Regions from separate parts of the Homo sapiens genome. Here region 1 is linked to region 2. A link means that fine-mapping ties the variant in region 2 to the expression of a gene that starts in the linked region. Tissue or cell type: whole blood. Region 2 holds a variant in brackets; the other region holds the start of a gene. All regions are shown on one strand. Distances are from middle to middle.

Region 1 (8,107 bases), 110 kb before region 2:
TAACGGCAATACCATTCATGACAGCAAAGCCCTCACAGCTAAATCACTTCCCAAAAGGCCCCACCTCTTAATATCACCACCTTGGGGTTTAAGTTCCAACATATGAATTTTGGAGGAATACCTTCATTCAAACCATAGCACCAAGGAAGGCTGAAAGCCTTTTTCAACTGGCATGGAGTGGCAGCTGAGGTTAGGGTCAGGGGCCCTTGAACAAAAGCCTTCTTAAGTTTAGGAAACAATATACAGACTAATTGCTTACTACAGAGCAGTTTAATACCCTAAGCATTCTTTTAGGAGTGAACTGGAGGCAATTATATTAGCAAAGAAGCTGTAGGGAGGGACAGGTCTATCCAGCTCAAAGGATATCCACAACAAAATTTTCCTTCTCAGAAAAGAAGGAAGGCTGCAGGACCTCTCTAGATCAAAAGGTTCCTTTTCAAATGAGTACATATATTGCCAGGCCTCAACGAGAATGAATCTCCTTCGAGACAGGAACGGGACAATGCCTTCAATCAGCAACATTCTGTTTTTACAGTCTATTTCCCTCTTATTCTCTGAATCTGCCTCTTGCCCAGTTTTTCATGGTGTTTGAAAAGCTGGCTGCCATAGCTTGATAAGGCATATATCTAACCAGGATATTTTACTGCCTTTTCCATTTCTGCTTATCAAACGTATTAATATATACTGGACACTACCTGGATCCGTTTTTTTTTTTTTACTAACAATTCATTCATACTTCATGGCATTTTGGCTATCATAGGTATCGCTGGCTTCCTGGTCAATTGTTCTTGGTCTAGGTGTAATAGTATTACACTTTAATTCTGACTGATTGTTCATCAACTGATTCATCTCCCCACCCCAAGTTAAGATTTGCTCATTGTTTTTGAATATATTTTGCTGGATTATATTGTTTCTATGAATATATTATGCTGGGTTTTGTTAAATGCTCTATTTCTTTACTGTTACTCTGAAATCTTACTTTTTCAAGGTGCTCCATAATAACTTATTTTTTTAGAACTCCCAAACATGGATCAACAGTACAAATAAAGCTCTTCACTGTCCTCTATAGAAACCATACAATTCTCACATCTGTGCCCTTGCTTTTCTCTGTGTGATATGCCTTTTATTGCTCTCCTCCTCTCCAAATTTTATCCATTCACATAAGGCTCAGCTTAAATCCCTCCATAAAGCTAACCTAACTACTCTCAGTCCCACTACTTTATCTAAATGTAAGTAGCACTGAATTTCCTCTCAACACTTAGAACTAAATTATATAGATCTTCACATATTTCTTAAAATGATATCCTGTAGGATCCTTGAAGTAGGGGCCATTATTTATACAGCTTTTGCCTTATGCAGTCCTAGGCAGGCACTCAGTGGGATACAGTTGAAAGAGTGTTAGGAGATGAAGGTTTTTGTCCTTACTTGGTACTGAGGAGTCCGTAACAGGCTATTGGGGAAAACAAGCTCTCTGATACCCCTCTTACTTTTCTCATAGCATAAACAGTAACTATGTAAATGGGAGGCTATCAAAACATCTTGGAGACCACTACCTTATAATTCATAGGTAGTAGATGGTCTTGCCAGTAAGATAAAAAGGTGCACCTCAGTGCTTCAGACTGCCCATTACAGTAAGTTTTCACTTTTATAAACCTTAGGTCAGCACCTAAACTATATATAGCTTATATATAAGCAATATAAACCTTATGCTCTATAAATAAATATTAATGGCAACTCTTGATAAAGAAATTGTGACTGGTTACAGCACGCTGGTCGCTGAAAAGAGATACTAGAGGGCAGTAATAAAACATAGGTAAAGAAATTAATTTATCACACTGCTACTGCATTGGTAATTCAAGGCAACCACAATTAAGGGGGTAAATACAGACCACAGATGCTAAAGCAATGCCTGAAAGTAAGAGATGTCAAATCAAATCAAACAAATGTTTAACATTTTATCAGATCTAAAGTAAGTACATCTTCTCTCAGTAAATTTTCTTGATGCACCATAAAATGCCAACAAAACTTCTAACTTACAGGTTAAATTATATAAAATACAATTTGAAAGCTCTTTTTAATTCTAATTATTTAAATATTAGCATCAGCAGACATTAATAATACTATTCTGAACCTGGATTTCCATGAATCTGAAGGTTAACCGTTAGCTGATAGGCTAAGTATGATAGAACAAAAAAATCAAAGCCAGTGGTGGTGATGAGCATCTGTAGTCCCAACTACTCCGGAGGCTGAGGCATAAGGACCCCTTGAGCCCGGGAGTCCAAGGATGCAGTGAGCTATGATTCTGCCATTGTGTTCCAGTTTGGGCTGCCCCATCTCTAAAAAAAATTTTTTTAATATGAAAAAGAAGTACTTTCTAAGTGAAAACTTAAAAAAAAAAAAAAAACCCAAATTGGTGAAAAATGCCTGACTATATCAACACTGTATTTAGAAAAATAGGGAGGTATGGGAAAAAGGTTAGGCAAGCCCCAATGCCCAAAACAATAATCCCAGAAACTGAAAGCATCTTGAAAACCACCTAGCAATACAGAACTTTACATTTAAAAAAAGCAGGGGTAATTTTGATTCACAAATGTCCTTAGTTGTGAATGTACCTAAAAACTTGTTTATAAAGCTGCATATATAGAGCAGAAAAATCTTTTACAAGATCTCAGGAAAATAATCACCAAATAACATGGTGCACTTAAATCGCACTGATCATCACAGCATGATTCACAAATAATACCGTACAACTACAAAGATATAACACATCGCTACACATACTTTATTTGCAATTCAGTACCATGAAAACATTTCTCTAAGAGGTCAATGTAATAATCTTTTATTGATATAGGAACTCTGGCACTGAAAGCTTGAATAACCCAAGGTAATGATGTCGTCACCAAGGGAGGACAAGAATAGAACCCAAATCCCTTGACTCCCAAGCTTGTGTTTTCCATTAATTGTGCTCCTTTCTATTCATCCAAGAGCATCAAGTGTAAAAGGCTGGAGAAAGGAGTGGACACAAATGAGCCAAGTCCGCAAGGTGGAGACTGCACTGAAGGTCCTAGGAATCGCCCCTTGGCACTTTCCTTTTGTGTTGGCTGAGGAAGATGAAAGCAGCAACAACCACAAACTCCTGGGACCAAGAACTGGAACTAGGTACTGCTTGTTGTGGTAACTCTCTTCCTCATTTTAGGCCTTTCCTTTTTAACCTCTCCTTCCGGCCAAGCCTTCGCGCTCTCTTCCCCTCCCTCGGTTTCTATCCGCTCCCGTTAGCTCCACTCCGCACATTCCTGCAAGGTGTCCCCGTTAAGAGGAGGCAGCTGCGCCGCACTGGCTCTCCACCCTCCATCCGGCCCTGGCGCCCAGTCGTCAGGTGTTCGAGAGGTTCGTAGCGTCACAAGCGCTCTCCCTAGAAAGTGAGTGGCAGTCAAGCATTATAAACGTGTTTCAACTGTAAAGAGACTTAAGAGATGGGAACCGGGGCATATACCAAGTTAGCTCTGCGTGGGTCTAGGTAGCTCGTCACGACAAAGCAAAATTTAGACAAGCGTTGAGACTTTCCTTCTAGCTCCGAGTTTCACAGCTCCGCCATCCCCTGAGCAACCTCCCACTGGAGGGCGCCTTCCGGAGCGCGCGTGTTTACACTTTTGCTACACCAGGCGGAGGAAACAAGCGCTCGCTGACCCCGGGGGATTCCAAACCGTTACTCCGCCCGCCGGGGTGGGGCCAGCGCAACGGCCGAGCCTGCGCAGCCAGCCGGCTCCGGGGGCCCCGCGCACTACAAGTCCCAGAAGGCAGCTCTCCGCGGGGCGGGCAGTCGCCTTATCTGCTTCTGGCTCATTTTTACCACTGCTCTCCCCTTCCCCGGTCCCCCTGGTGTCCTTTCCACAGTTAAAGGCTACTTTCTCTTGAAGCACATGAGGAGAAGCCTTAGCAACCTCAATACCGAAGTTCTTCGCGCGCTCGCTCTTTCTGCCTCCGCCCGAACTATGCCTGAGTCCCTCACAGGAGTTGGATAGTAGAGGCGAGAGAAGGAAGTCTTTGCAGGCCAAAATTGGGACAACCTGCTTGGACTTCCGCCTCCCGGCCTCCGGAAGGCAGTGCGCACGCGCTCGCTGCGACTCCGGCGCGGTTGACTTCCGCTCCCACTGTGCTCTGCGAGCCGAATCATGGATCACACTGGTAAGGAGGCGGAGGCAGTGGGGGTCCCGGTTCCAAGCCCCCTTGGCCGGCCTGGGGCTGGTCGCACAGCAGGCAAAAGGGATTATGCTCGCCCCACAACACTAGGGTGTGGCAGTGAGAAGAAATCTCACAGATGCCTTCCTGTGCCCGGCAGGGGCCTGCGGTTTCCTGGCCTACCGTCTGGTGTGGTACCTACCTCCTCCGTGCCGGCAACAACCGCTCCTACTCTGGTTCTGCTGAGCTCCGAGCCCGGACCAGTGGGCGATGTAGGCCTTCGGGAAGGGAGAGCCCCGGCTCTGTTTTATTTAGCCCAGCTGCTCTGGCCTACGTTATGGAGACTGGCGGGTAGATTGCGGTCTCCGAGTCGCGGAATCCTCTTTACGCTGGGAGTGGACGGGCGAGAATGGGTTGGAGACTTCCTGCTGTCTCAGTCAGCTTTGGGCGGGTGCTGCAGTGGTCACCCCCTGTCGTCTCTCCGATCCTTTATGGACTAGAGGGGTGAAAGAAGGGAGTCTGATAGAGTTTTTGGAATCAAACTCGGAGCAGTTTTTCTACCTAAACCAAAAGCATGCCCCGCGCTTCGGCTGAGGTCCTTACTCATCATTTGAGGGTATTTACAAAGAGGAGTTTAAAATCAAGGCATTCTCATACTTTTCTCCAAGTAAGAGTGGCTCCACCCTTTGTTATGTATTTTCTGGCTTTTGCTTCTTTGTGGTTCTTGGATATTGAATGAGTGCTCTTGGAGTTATGTGCCCCATACATTTATAGCGACCGTATCACAAATAGAGAAAAAAAGGCTTTTTCTTGAGTATTGAGTTGTCCTCACTCATCAGATATCTACTTGGTTATATAATTAGGTGTGTATGTTTATTTATGTAGGTGTGTATGTTTATTTATGCAAGATACATGCAGATATCTATAGGTCGGGAGATGGAAGATGGAATGGTAAACGAGACGGACCAGGTCCGTGATAGAACTTCTGTTTTATGGAGGAACACAGACAATACGTTCTTTTTTTTTAAATTTATTATTTTTTTAATGTTTGCGGATTATTTTGAAGAAAATAAACGAGTGCTGTGGAGAGATTCATAGGACGAAATTTCAGAGAGGGTTGTTAGGAATGGTCTTTGTGGAAGCTAAGATCTGATGGATGAGAAGAACCCAGCCCTGGGAAAAAAGCAAGAGGAAGAGCATTTCCAGCAAGTGCGAAGGCACTGAGGTAGGAAGATACAGTGAAGTCAGCTGCAGCCTCCTAATAGCCAGAGGGTAGGAGTCCTGAAGTGAGATTGGAAAGGAGGGCAGCAGGCACATCATTCAGGTCATTGAAAGCCGTGGTAAACGTTTGAATTTTAATTTAAGTGAATATGAAGCCATTGAACAGAAGTGGAGGAGGAACACAGTCTCTTAAAAAATACAATAGGCTGTTCTATGAAGAATGGTGTAAGAGAGGGAGGTAAGAATGATGGAAAATAGCTGATTGCAGTAGACGGGAAGGGAAGGTTGGTTTGGTGAAAATGAAGGAGAATGGGCAGCTTCAGTAAATACTCTGGTGGTGTTTGAAGGAATGTGAGAGAAAGGAGAAATGCCTAGGCTTTTGGTTTGAGCAACTAGGTAGGGTCCATTATTGAGCTGAGGAAAACTTGGGGCAGAAAACAATCTTTTTTTGTAGAGGTGAGACGGGAATTTGGGAACAAGTGTTTGGTCTTGGACTGCTAGTGTGAGATAACTACTGAGACACAGGAGAGATGCCAAGTGGAGATGAGAGGAAAGATCTGCACTGAAAATACGTATTTGGAAGTTAGTACCTTTATTTATAGCTGGTATTTTAAAGCATGAGGACAGATGAGACCACTTAAGAAGGGTGTGTTCAGAGGAGAAGCCGGCCTAGAACGAGGCTGTAAAGAATTCCAGTGTTTGGGAATTTATAGAGTTGAAACTGGGATTTTGATGTTAGAATAGCAAACATTCAACTTTAGGAAAGTAATTCTTATTTGAGCCCACTACTGGAATTATGAGTCAAGTTCCTGCCATAGTTTAGAGGCTATTATGTTAGGAAATCATAATAGGGGTGAGTGTAAAGAGTGTTTATTATCTTAATTCTTGAAGTTTAGAGATTGCCTAAGGAAGTAAAACTCATCTTAACATGAAAATACTCACGAATGAGCTGACCACTTAAAAAATTAGTTCCCTCTCAGATGTCCCTTCTGCTTAACACTAGCTTCTTACCTATTTTATTTTTTTTAAATGAATCAATCTCTTTGATGTTTAGTATCAGAAGACAGTATCAAATACTGTGCACTGATTGTGAAATAAAATTATAAACCTTGTAGAAGATTCTGGTTTTCATGAAATTCGTAAACATGAATTTGATAATTGTTTAAATCACAAAGGCTTTGACAAATGAGGAAATGCCACTTAGCTAGATAATTGAAGAATCATGACAGGATAGGCATCTCAAAAGAATAATTGTAATATTAAAGGATTAAGAGGTCCTTGGGGAAACAGATGAAACCCTTGAACATTATGCAAAAATGACCCATTTTATGATCATACCGAAACATTCAAATGTGAAAATGAAGGTGTTCTAATAGAATCTTGCCAGAAAAATTACTCCAAGGGGCTCCCCATTAACACTGGATTTATTCTTTGGTCATTCTAAGAATTAGCACTTCTGTAACTGTATCCCAGATTTTGTAAAAGATCCCAGATTTTGTAAAATATTTATTGGTTCTTTTTATTCAAGATAAAAAATCCCCAATCTTTTTTAAACTATATGATATGGAAGTGTTGTGCCTTTTTAAAGTGAATTTATCTGAAGTGGCCAGTAGTCCTTAGTCACTTTCTATGTAATATCTAAGAAATTTTTGTTGTTAAGGACTTTATAATTTGTTACTGTATTCAAAAGGAAATAGTGCTTTATGCTCTGATTCTTAATTTAAAAACAACAAAAAGCAAAAAAGTCCCAAAGAAACCCAGAATGTTATCATTATTAAATGCTGTACCTCATGAACTTGAATCTGTGAAGCAGAGTGGGAAGGGCCAGCCAGCTCTTGAAAGTGGTAGACTATGCAAGCAACAGTAGAGACCTCAAGTGTTCAGGATGGTGTGAAAAGGACTTGTAATGAAGTGTTGGTATTTTCATTATTCACAAAGGTAAAACGATTAAACCATTTTGATATTTGAATATTTAATATTTGAGGGACAGCATTGAACTGATTATATGTCTACAACGACTTGCTTTTTAGTTCATTGGAATGTCAGGAATACTTTTTGAGCAAGGAAAAAAGTCATTCATATTTCTTTTGGCCAATGCATTGCTTGTAAGTACTTTTACATACATAAGCAACTACAATGAAAACAGATCAAATACATTAATCAGCTTGTGAGTCTATTTAATGAAGTGTTGAAAGCTGATCAAGTTGGGTTAACCCTAACTCAAGATTCTAGCTAACCATGTAATTCCACCCCTCTTTGTTTTAGGATTAGCTGTTATAAGAGTAGTAAGTAGATTAAAATAATCGTTATGGACCCATTTTTAATTTTGTTTGGTATTTTGTTCAGAAAAAGTGCAAATGAATGTGAACTTATTGTGTGTCTGTAATCCTAGTAGCCTTGGAGGCCATTGGTACTAGCTTACTACTTCCAAATTTGGCTTTGCTGAATTTAATGTGGATGGTTTGGCTATCAGTCTTGACTGTAATATTTCCTGCAGGGGCAGTTATACAACCTTGTTCAATAACTTGTCATGTTTAAAACACTACAAATTAAAAAATACGTTATTTGTATTTCCTATTTTAAGCATTTTCCTTCTTTAGTAGGTCAAGTTAAATATTTTCTGTATTATATATTTTCATCTACTTGAAAAAAGGTAACTCTTAAGCTTTAGATGGAGTCAGTTCTATGAAATAATACTCCTGTTACT
Region 2 (8,107 bases):
ACCATCTGAGGTCGGGAGTTGGAGACCAGCCTGGCCAACATGGTGAAACCCCATTTCTACTAAAAATACAAAAAAAAAAAAAAACCCAAAAAATTAGCCAGGCGTGGTGGTGGGCGTCTGTAATCTCAGCTACTTGGGAGGCTGAGGCACAAGAATTGCTTGAACCTGGGAGGCGGAGGTTGCAGTGAGCCAAGATCATGTCACTGCACTCCAGCCTGGGTGACAGAGCAAGACTGTCTCAAACAAAACAACAACAATAACAACAACAACAACAGCAACAACAAAAAGATTTACCATTTTAATCATTAAGTATATATTGATTATACATTTTCAGTGGCATTAAATACATTCACATCATTGTGAACCACTATCTGTCTCCAGAACTTTTCCATCATCCTAAACAAAAACCACCCATTAAATGGTAACTCCCCAGTCTTCCCTCTCCCCAGCTCCTGGCAACCACTATTCTACTTTCTGTCTCTGTGAATTTGACTACTCAAGGTAGGTGGAATCATACAAATTTGTCCTTCTGTGTCTTGCTTATTTTATTTAGCCTAATGTTTTCAAGGTTCAACCATGTTGTAGCATGTGTCAGAATTGGATTCCTTTTTAAGGCTGAATAATGTTCCATTGTATGTTTATTCCACATTTAATTTTTCCATTAATGGACATCTGGGTTGTTCCTACCTTTTGGTTTTGTGAATAATGCTGCTATGAACATTAGTGTTGAGACTCAGGTTTACATTGTTAGACTCAGTAGTCTCATTTAACTCTTGCAATGAATGCATGGAATTGAAACACAGGTGAATCATGTTTTAAAAAAACAAAGTGGGGCCGGGAATGGTGGTTCACGCCTATAATCCCAGCACTTTGGGGGGTCGAGGCAGAAGGATTGCTTGAGGTCAGGACCAGTCTGGACAATATATTGAGACCCTGTCTCTACCAAAGTAGATAAATAAGTGACTTGAGTGTATGTTCCCCATCACTAAGATTTATAGTTTACATAGTTCTTTGACTTATTTTGTTAGTTGACTTAGTATTTCTATGCATTTCTATATATTGACTGGGTATAATTATAAAGAATATTCATTAAGTCTAGGGATTGCATTTTGAAATCATTGTAATTATTTTCTTTCTTCAAGTGTTCAAGGTAAAGCATATAATTAAAAAATAAACATTTAAAAAATTGCCTAATGTGGAGAAGTGCCAGGAATATCTTGGTCTCTAAACTGACCCAGAGCACATCACTCAAGCTCAGCCAGAATACTCCAGTGTAAGAGGGTAAGAGTATGGCTCTTACTGTAAGGAAACCGAAAAAAAAAAAAAAAAAGAAACGTGAGTTATATTCATGTGACTGTGCTTGTATCTACAAAACTGTGACTGAGTTGAGAAAATACGCTGTTAGCCATGTTTTCCCCAAAATCATTGCACTGTGTTTTGACATTGGGGCTGAAATTTTCATAAGCCCCACTCTACCCCACACCCAGGATGATGAGGAACAGAGATGCCCATTTCACCATTCACGTATGGGTGGTTTTCCAAGGTGCTCCTCAAGAAGCCTTGGACATTTAAGTCTACATCTGATATTTATCTAATGAATAATGTGGTTTACATAAGGAACCAAGTGATTTACTCCCTAGCTCCCCAAAAATGCTTTTTCTTTTCTTTTTTTCTTTCTTTTTTTTTTTTTTCTTTTTTTTTTTGAGACAGAGTCTCACTCTATTACCCAGGCTGGAGTGCAGTGGCAGGTCTCGGCCCACTGCAACCTCCTGCTCCTGGACTCAAGCAATCGTTCCATCTCAGCTTCCTGAGTAGCTGGGATTACAGATGCATGCCATTACACCCGGCTAACTTTTGTATTTTTTGTAGAGACGGGGTTTTGCCATCTTGCTGGTCTTGGACTCCTGAGCTCAAGTGATCCACCCACCTAGGCCTCCCAAAGTGCTGGGATTACAGGCATGAGCCACTGCGCCCAGCCTAAAAAATACTTTTTGAAATCTCAGCTAGATTCATTGGCTAACAAGGTAATTCTGTCAGAACTGAAGCTATTAAGGCAGGGAAGATTCTACTCACTTTTTAAATCCTAGTTTAAATTTTTAAAAAATCCTTTAAAATTCATAAGTTCTAAATCTGCATAGAAACATATACAGATATAGCTATCCAAAGCATTCTCACTTTAAACTTTTGTGAGACCTCACAAAGAAATTATAGAGTTTTCTAGACTCAAAATCACGAAACGTCTGGCATCCTTTGCTGTCAAGAACCGTACAAGAATCACCCTCACTTATTGAGATGCTGTTATCTGTTCCAACCAAGGAATTCCAGACGTTAACAAACGCAGAGAAGGACCTGGGAAGCAGAGGCAGCTGAGGTGGGGCTCACTGAGAAGATGTCTTAGGGTTTGGGGGTGTTCCTACCCTTGCACTCATCAACCATGTACCCCCGAACATCACCTCTTCCTGAACTAGGGGACCGGAGGTCATTTTACAGAGATTGCTGTAATGGTTCATTCTGTGGGCAGGTGTGATTGGGCAGGTAGGGGAGAGATGGTGAATTGGAAAGACATGTTGAACTGAGTCTGAATTAGTTTCTTTCTTTTGCCCCTGATGAAGATGGAAATGGGTTTCCTCTTTGCCTTTTCACACAAGTGCTGCAGACAACGTCTGTGATTGCACCAACTCCTGGTGCCTCACCCAGAGCATCGCCTCCCCAGATGTTATTCATCCTTGTGTTTTCTCCTGGCCTGAAAGGAGACAGCTTTGACTCTCCAGGAGATGGGAAACTAGTTTTCTACTAAATTCCCATTCTAGCCTACAAATTCCTATCAGAACAACAGCCCCCCACTAACTGGATTGTTGTTACGCCTCCACTTTACTCTGTGACACCTGCAGACATCTCTATATTGTACTTTTTCCCAATGAATTAAGATCACAAGAGGATATATGCTTTTCACAATTTGCCTCTGTGTCTTAGTGCAGTGTACATACTATTGTGAAAATATAGATGTAGCTGGGTGTTTGTGTTGGCTCTAAACAAACCAGTTCTTGCAATCCTGGCCAGTTTCCACCTGTGTCTACATATCCCTCAAATACAAGAACAATGCATAGCCCAAAATCAGCCTGTGTGATAGATGCAATCTGGGGAAGGTGAAGTTAACTTATGATGCAAAAAGGCAGAATGGAAAGCCATGGTTGGCAAGATGATGACAAAAGCTAAATAAATGTCCTTGACCTAGAACTACAGAGAAGATGTTCTCTGGGAAGACTTGTGAGTGCACGTCTCAAATTTCGAAACTCTGATCTTCCTTGCCAACCCCTACCCCACCTCTATTCCCCTCCAAAGCCCTAAATATAAATCGCTATGTCTTCTTTCACAAAATAGAGACCAAACTCCTCGTCAGGCACAGAATATACAAGGCTTTTCTTTGGTCTAGACTCTCTACCTTTCCAGCTTCCTCTTCAGTTATCTCCCTCTCATAATCCATGCTCCAGTCAAAGTGAGTTATTGTCCTCATCCTCCATTATGCTGTGTCTTACCCCCAACACCCCCAGGTCATGTTCCCTCTCCACTAGACCCTTTCCTCCCTGCTTCAC[G/C]TGGTGGAGAGTCTTTGGCACGTGTTGACTCATGTCCTCTGGATCCTCTCCAAATGTGTGAGGACATTCCTCACTTGTGAGCCTTGTTGGGAGACAGTGCTTGTCTTCCTTTACAGAAGTTGAAAAGACCCAGCACTCAATCTGCCGCTACCTTGGCAGATAAGATGTGGGGAGATAGCCTTGGCTTGGTCCATCAGCTGCACCTATTAGCAATATTGAATCTGGAAGTAATGATACAAACAAGCAGGGCAAGGAAGACTCCCTTTGGCCGTGGTGGTTGGCAGGAGTGAGGGGGGCAGCAGCATGTGATTTCCAGCAGCCAGTCTGTGATGCCACACCACCAATGGCATCCTCACCTCACTGGCACCACTTTCCCAAATCTTGTTCTCCATGTTTCCTAGAAATTGTATGATCATCTGATAGTCTCTCTATACATTCTCTGCTTAAAATGGCCAGTCTGTTTCTGTCACTTGCAATGAAGACTCTGACTGGCTGGGCACAGTGGCTCATGCCTGTAATCCCAGCACCTTTGGAAGGCCAAGGTGGAAGGATCCCTTGAGGCCAGGAATTCAAGATCAGCCTGGACAACATAGCAGACCCCATCTCTACCAAAAAACAGCTGGGCATGATGGTGCATGCCTGTAGTCAAAGCTACTAGGGAGGCTGAGGCAGGAGGATCACTTGAGCCCAGGAGTTTGAGGCTGCAGAACAAGACCCTGTTTCTTAACAAAAAGAAAGCCTTTGATATACCTGGCCAGTTTCTATTTGTCTTTTGAGACTCCTCTCAGTGACTATTTTCTTGGAAAGCAGTGCTCATCCCTGCCCCACTCCTAGCCAGTGTTTCTCCTATAGACTCCCATAAAAGTCTGGTCCATTCTGGCTCAGCGTTTATGCTGACATTAATAGCATTAGTCATATTATTAATGCTGACATTAATCACAGCATTTATTAACACTGTGTCAGGACCTGCCACTAACTCACTTGTCCCCCTTCTGGGCTGTAAGTTCTTGAGGACACAGACTAGGTTTTGCCCCTCTCTATCCCTAGAACCCAGAACAGTATGTTAACATGGCATGCAGTAATAGCATTACAGCAACAGTACTAATACCAGTAATAACAATAACTTTTATTGAGCACCTATTATGTGCCAAGGTGCAGAAAAAAATGCTTATTTGATAAATAATGTACACTGAAAATTGCTCACCGAATATTTTTGAATACTTTCATACTCACAGAGTATTTTTGTATTTTGAATACAGGCAACCCTGAGGAAAAATTGGTACATCCCACTTCACCAATTAATTCCCTTTTCATTTTCTCTCTCTTTTCTCCTTCTGGATATGTCTCTTGTGTTCCGCTCTTGCCCTCAAATAGATGTTATTTAATACCTAGAAAGATGAATAGCAGTGGCTACAGTGTTAGTTGCTAGTGACTGCGCTTGCCTTTCAGAAGAAGCTTCTTATAGTGTGAAAAGTTTTCAGAAGGAATGAGGTCTTTATTGTGGAATGCCTTACAGTAGGCCATACTTGTTTTTATAGCTTGGGTGCAGGAGCTGGAAATAGAGGGAGAATGCCTATGTACAAGTGTGCGAAGGAGAGGGAGAAGCTGCTCTCACCCCACTCCTGACTTCTTGTCTGCTCTCTTCTCAGCAAAGTCCTCTTCTGGGGTCTTCCTAGGCCTCACAAAGCTGCTCCCCAGGCCTTGGCCAACCACCTTCCCTGGAGCAGGCTCTCGGTGAGAAAACCTCATGGAGAGAAGAGGCCAGGAGTCCATGGCCACTCCTGTTTACTTTCCCATTCCCATCCTGCATGTTCCTGCCTCCTGCCTGAGTGAACACAGATTGACATGCCCTCTGTGAATGGCTGCAGACCCTTGTTCCAGTTCAGCTCTGTCCAGCACCTGTCATATGTATTACCTGAAAGAAAAACCTGAGATCAGCAGAAGATCCTCAGAGCAGACAAAAATTTTTCTTAAAAACAACAAGACAAGTGAAAAACAGGACAAGGGTGGGGACAGGACAACAGCAGGCTGCACCCAGAGAGTGCACCCAGGTCATCGGCTGTTCTTCATTTCTGACTTCCTGCTGGCTGTCCTGTGAGGTTGAGGTTACGTGGTTAGAGAAAGCCGGTTACTTGTTTCAAAACAAACAAAGTCCTCAAATCCTTTGAACAGCTAAAGGAATAGAGCACTCCTTGAATATGTATTCTTTCATATCCTCTGAACAGATCTTTATTTACAAGGAAGGCTGGTCTTGGCTGGAAAAATGGTAGTCAGATGTAGATCAAAATGATAATCTCAGAACACAGCACCAAGTGTCTTTTGCATGGGCCATGGGACTTAATGTCTTGATAGAACAGAGGATGTCAAGGAGAAAAAACTGAAGGCCACAAGAAAATGTGAATTTTTTAAATAGTTTACTCTGGTTGGAGGTTTGCCATATTCCTGACTCAACTTTATAATGTTTCCCATTTCTAAGCCAAATGGCTCAGAAGTGTGGCTGGGGTGTGACCTTGACCAGGTACAACCATGGCAATGAGTCTCTATTCTTTTTACTTTGGAATCCAACCAACACGTTAAAGCTCTTTGAATGTGGGTATCATATGAGTCAGTGCATGTGTGCTGACTGCCTGCTGTCCTCATAACACAAAGTGGAGTGGGGGCTATGGAGGCTACTGGATTATTTCCGTCAGTGTATACAGCAAAACTAAATTAATCCCCAAGTTTAGGCTTTTTGACCTCGAGTATCAAGACTAGTTTACTTGCATTGTGCAAATTAGTCACCAACCTACTTTGTATTATAGAGAGTTTTAAACTTTTGTGTATTTCTCCAGATTTGCATCAATGAGATTTTTGAAGTCAGCTTTTAAAATAAATACTAAAATGTAACTGCTTTTGGGATTCTTTTTCTTTATCCACCACACCACGAAAGTAGTAAGTTCCAACACTTCTCACCATTTGCAGTGCCACAATCTGGTTCAAGTCACCGTCAGCTCCCCCTTCAACACTGAGGAAGCCTCCAGGCCCATCTCCTGCCTCCAGTCTTATCCCACTCTCCTCCCTGTCAAGCACAGTCCATACAACACGCAGCAGGCAGAGGTATCTTTACCAGGTGTAAATCAGGTTACATAACTCTCTGGTTTAAAACTCTCCAAGGCTTCCTCTTACAACTAGAGAAAAACTTACCCTCCAGTCTTGGCCTACCAAACCCGCCTGATTGGGCTCCTTCATGGCTCTCCCAAGTGACCCACAACTTGCTTCCTGGTCCTCAGCACTCCAGTCCCTTCAGCTTTCTATCTCTTGAACGAATGCACCAAGCTCAGCCCTGCTCTGGGCCTTTGCACTTGTTCCTCCTTCTGCTGCGTGCCTCTTGCCTAGATCTTTGCACGGCTGTCCCCCTCTCATTATCTGGGTCTCAATTCACATCCACTCAACAAACCACTCTAGATAAATCAGCACTCTCTGCCCACTTCTTTTTTTTGTTGAGATGGAGTCTTGCTTGTCACCCAGGCTGGAATGCGGTGGTGCAATCTCGGCTCACTGCAACCTCTGCCTCCCGGGTTCAAGTGATTCTCCTGCCTCAGGCTCTGGAGTAGCTGGGACTACAGGCGCCCGCCACCACGCCCAGCTAATTTTTTGTGTTTTCAGTAGAGACGGGGTTTCACCGTGTTGGCCAGGATGGTCCGGATCTCCTGACCTCGTGATCTGCCCACCTCGGCCTCCCAAAGTGCTGGGATTACAGGCGTGACCCACTGCACCCGGCCTCTCTGCCCATTTCTACCACTCTCTCATTATCCTATTAGAGCCACGTCTGGCACTTAGCAGGACTTAAAACTAAATTATTTTAAAGCCCTGTTTATGTGTTTTTTGCTTGTTTTCCCCCAACCCACAAACCAGCCCAATATGAGAACATGAGCTCATTGAAGGCAGGAACTCAGATCCTTGCGGTCCCTGCTGTTCCCACTCCTGTCCCCCCATACCTGGAGCAGTACCCAGCCTAATACATATTTATTGACTATCTGATAACTTAACAAATTTAACATTCAGTAAAATTTACCCGATAAATGAACGAATGATTAGGGAACCACATGCATGACTCTCAACTACATAGTGTAAAGTTCCACCTACATGGCATTCTGGAAAAGACAAAACCATAGGGATAAAAAATAGATCAGTAGTTACCAGAAACTGGGTTTGGGATGTTAAGGGCTGACTATAAAGGGACATAAGGGAACTTTTTTGGATGATGGAACCCTTCTATATTTTGTTTCTGATGGCAGTTTCGTGTTAAAAATCATAGAATTGGTTGGCTAAACAGGATAAATTGTGTGTACGCAAGTTATACCTCAACAAACTGGATTTTATTTAATTGCCTGACAGATCTTTCACTTACCCTGGAATAAGCACCGAATGGTTTGTAGAAACGCTCTCATATTGGCCCTTTGTGAACAATCTCCATGTACACATATTCTGAGTGCAGAAACCCCGGGAGCAGCATGGTGGAGTAGAAAAGTATG

What was found. PIP is the estimated chance that this variant, and not a neighbour inherited with it, causes the effect.
Region 1: CBLL1 starts here. The variant in region 2 is fine-mapped to the expression of CBLL1 in whole blood (TOPMed, PIP above 0.99).

What each region holds. Positions count from the first base shown.
Region 1 is chr7:107,739,992-107,748,098 of GRCh38, forward strand. CBLL1 (Cbl proto-oncogene like 1) reads left to right here and starts at 4,151. Exons shown (of 6, transcript NM_024814.4): 1 at 4,151-4,185. The coding sequence starts at 4,173. It overlaps CBLL1-AS1 (CBLL1 antisense RNA 1), which reads right to left and starts at 4,590. Exons shown (of 2, transcript NR_144537.1): 1 at 4,382-4,590; 2 at 2,762-3,412. RefSeq lists enhancers at 2,740-3,259, 3,260-3,778, 3,876-4,095, 4,446-4,625 and a silencer at 3,636-3,835.
Region 2 is chr7:107,851,609-107,859,715 of GRCh38, forward strand. LOC105375444 (a long non-coding RNA gene) reads right to left here. Exons shown (of 3, transcript XR_927850.3): 3 at 4,871-5,508. Among named protein-coding and RNA genes, the nearest start is that of DLD, 36 kb to the right of the region's middle. The variant G/C (reference allele first, on the strand shown) is at 3,594.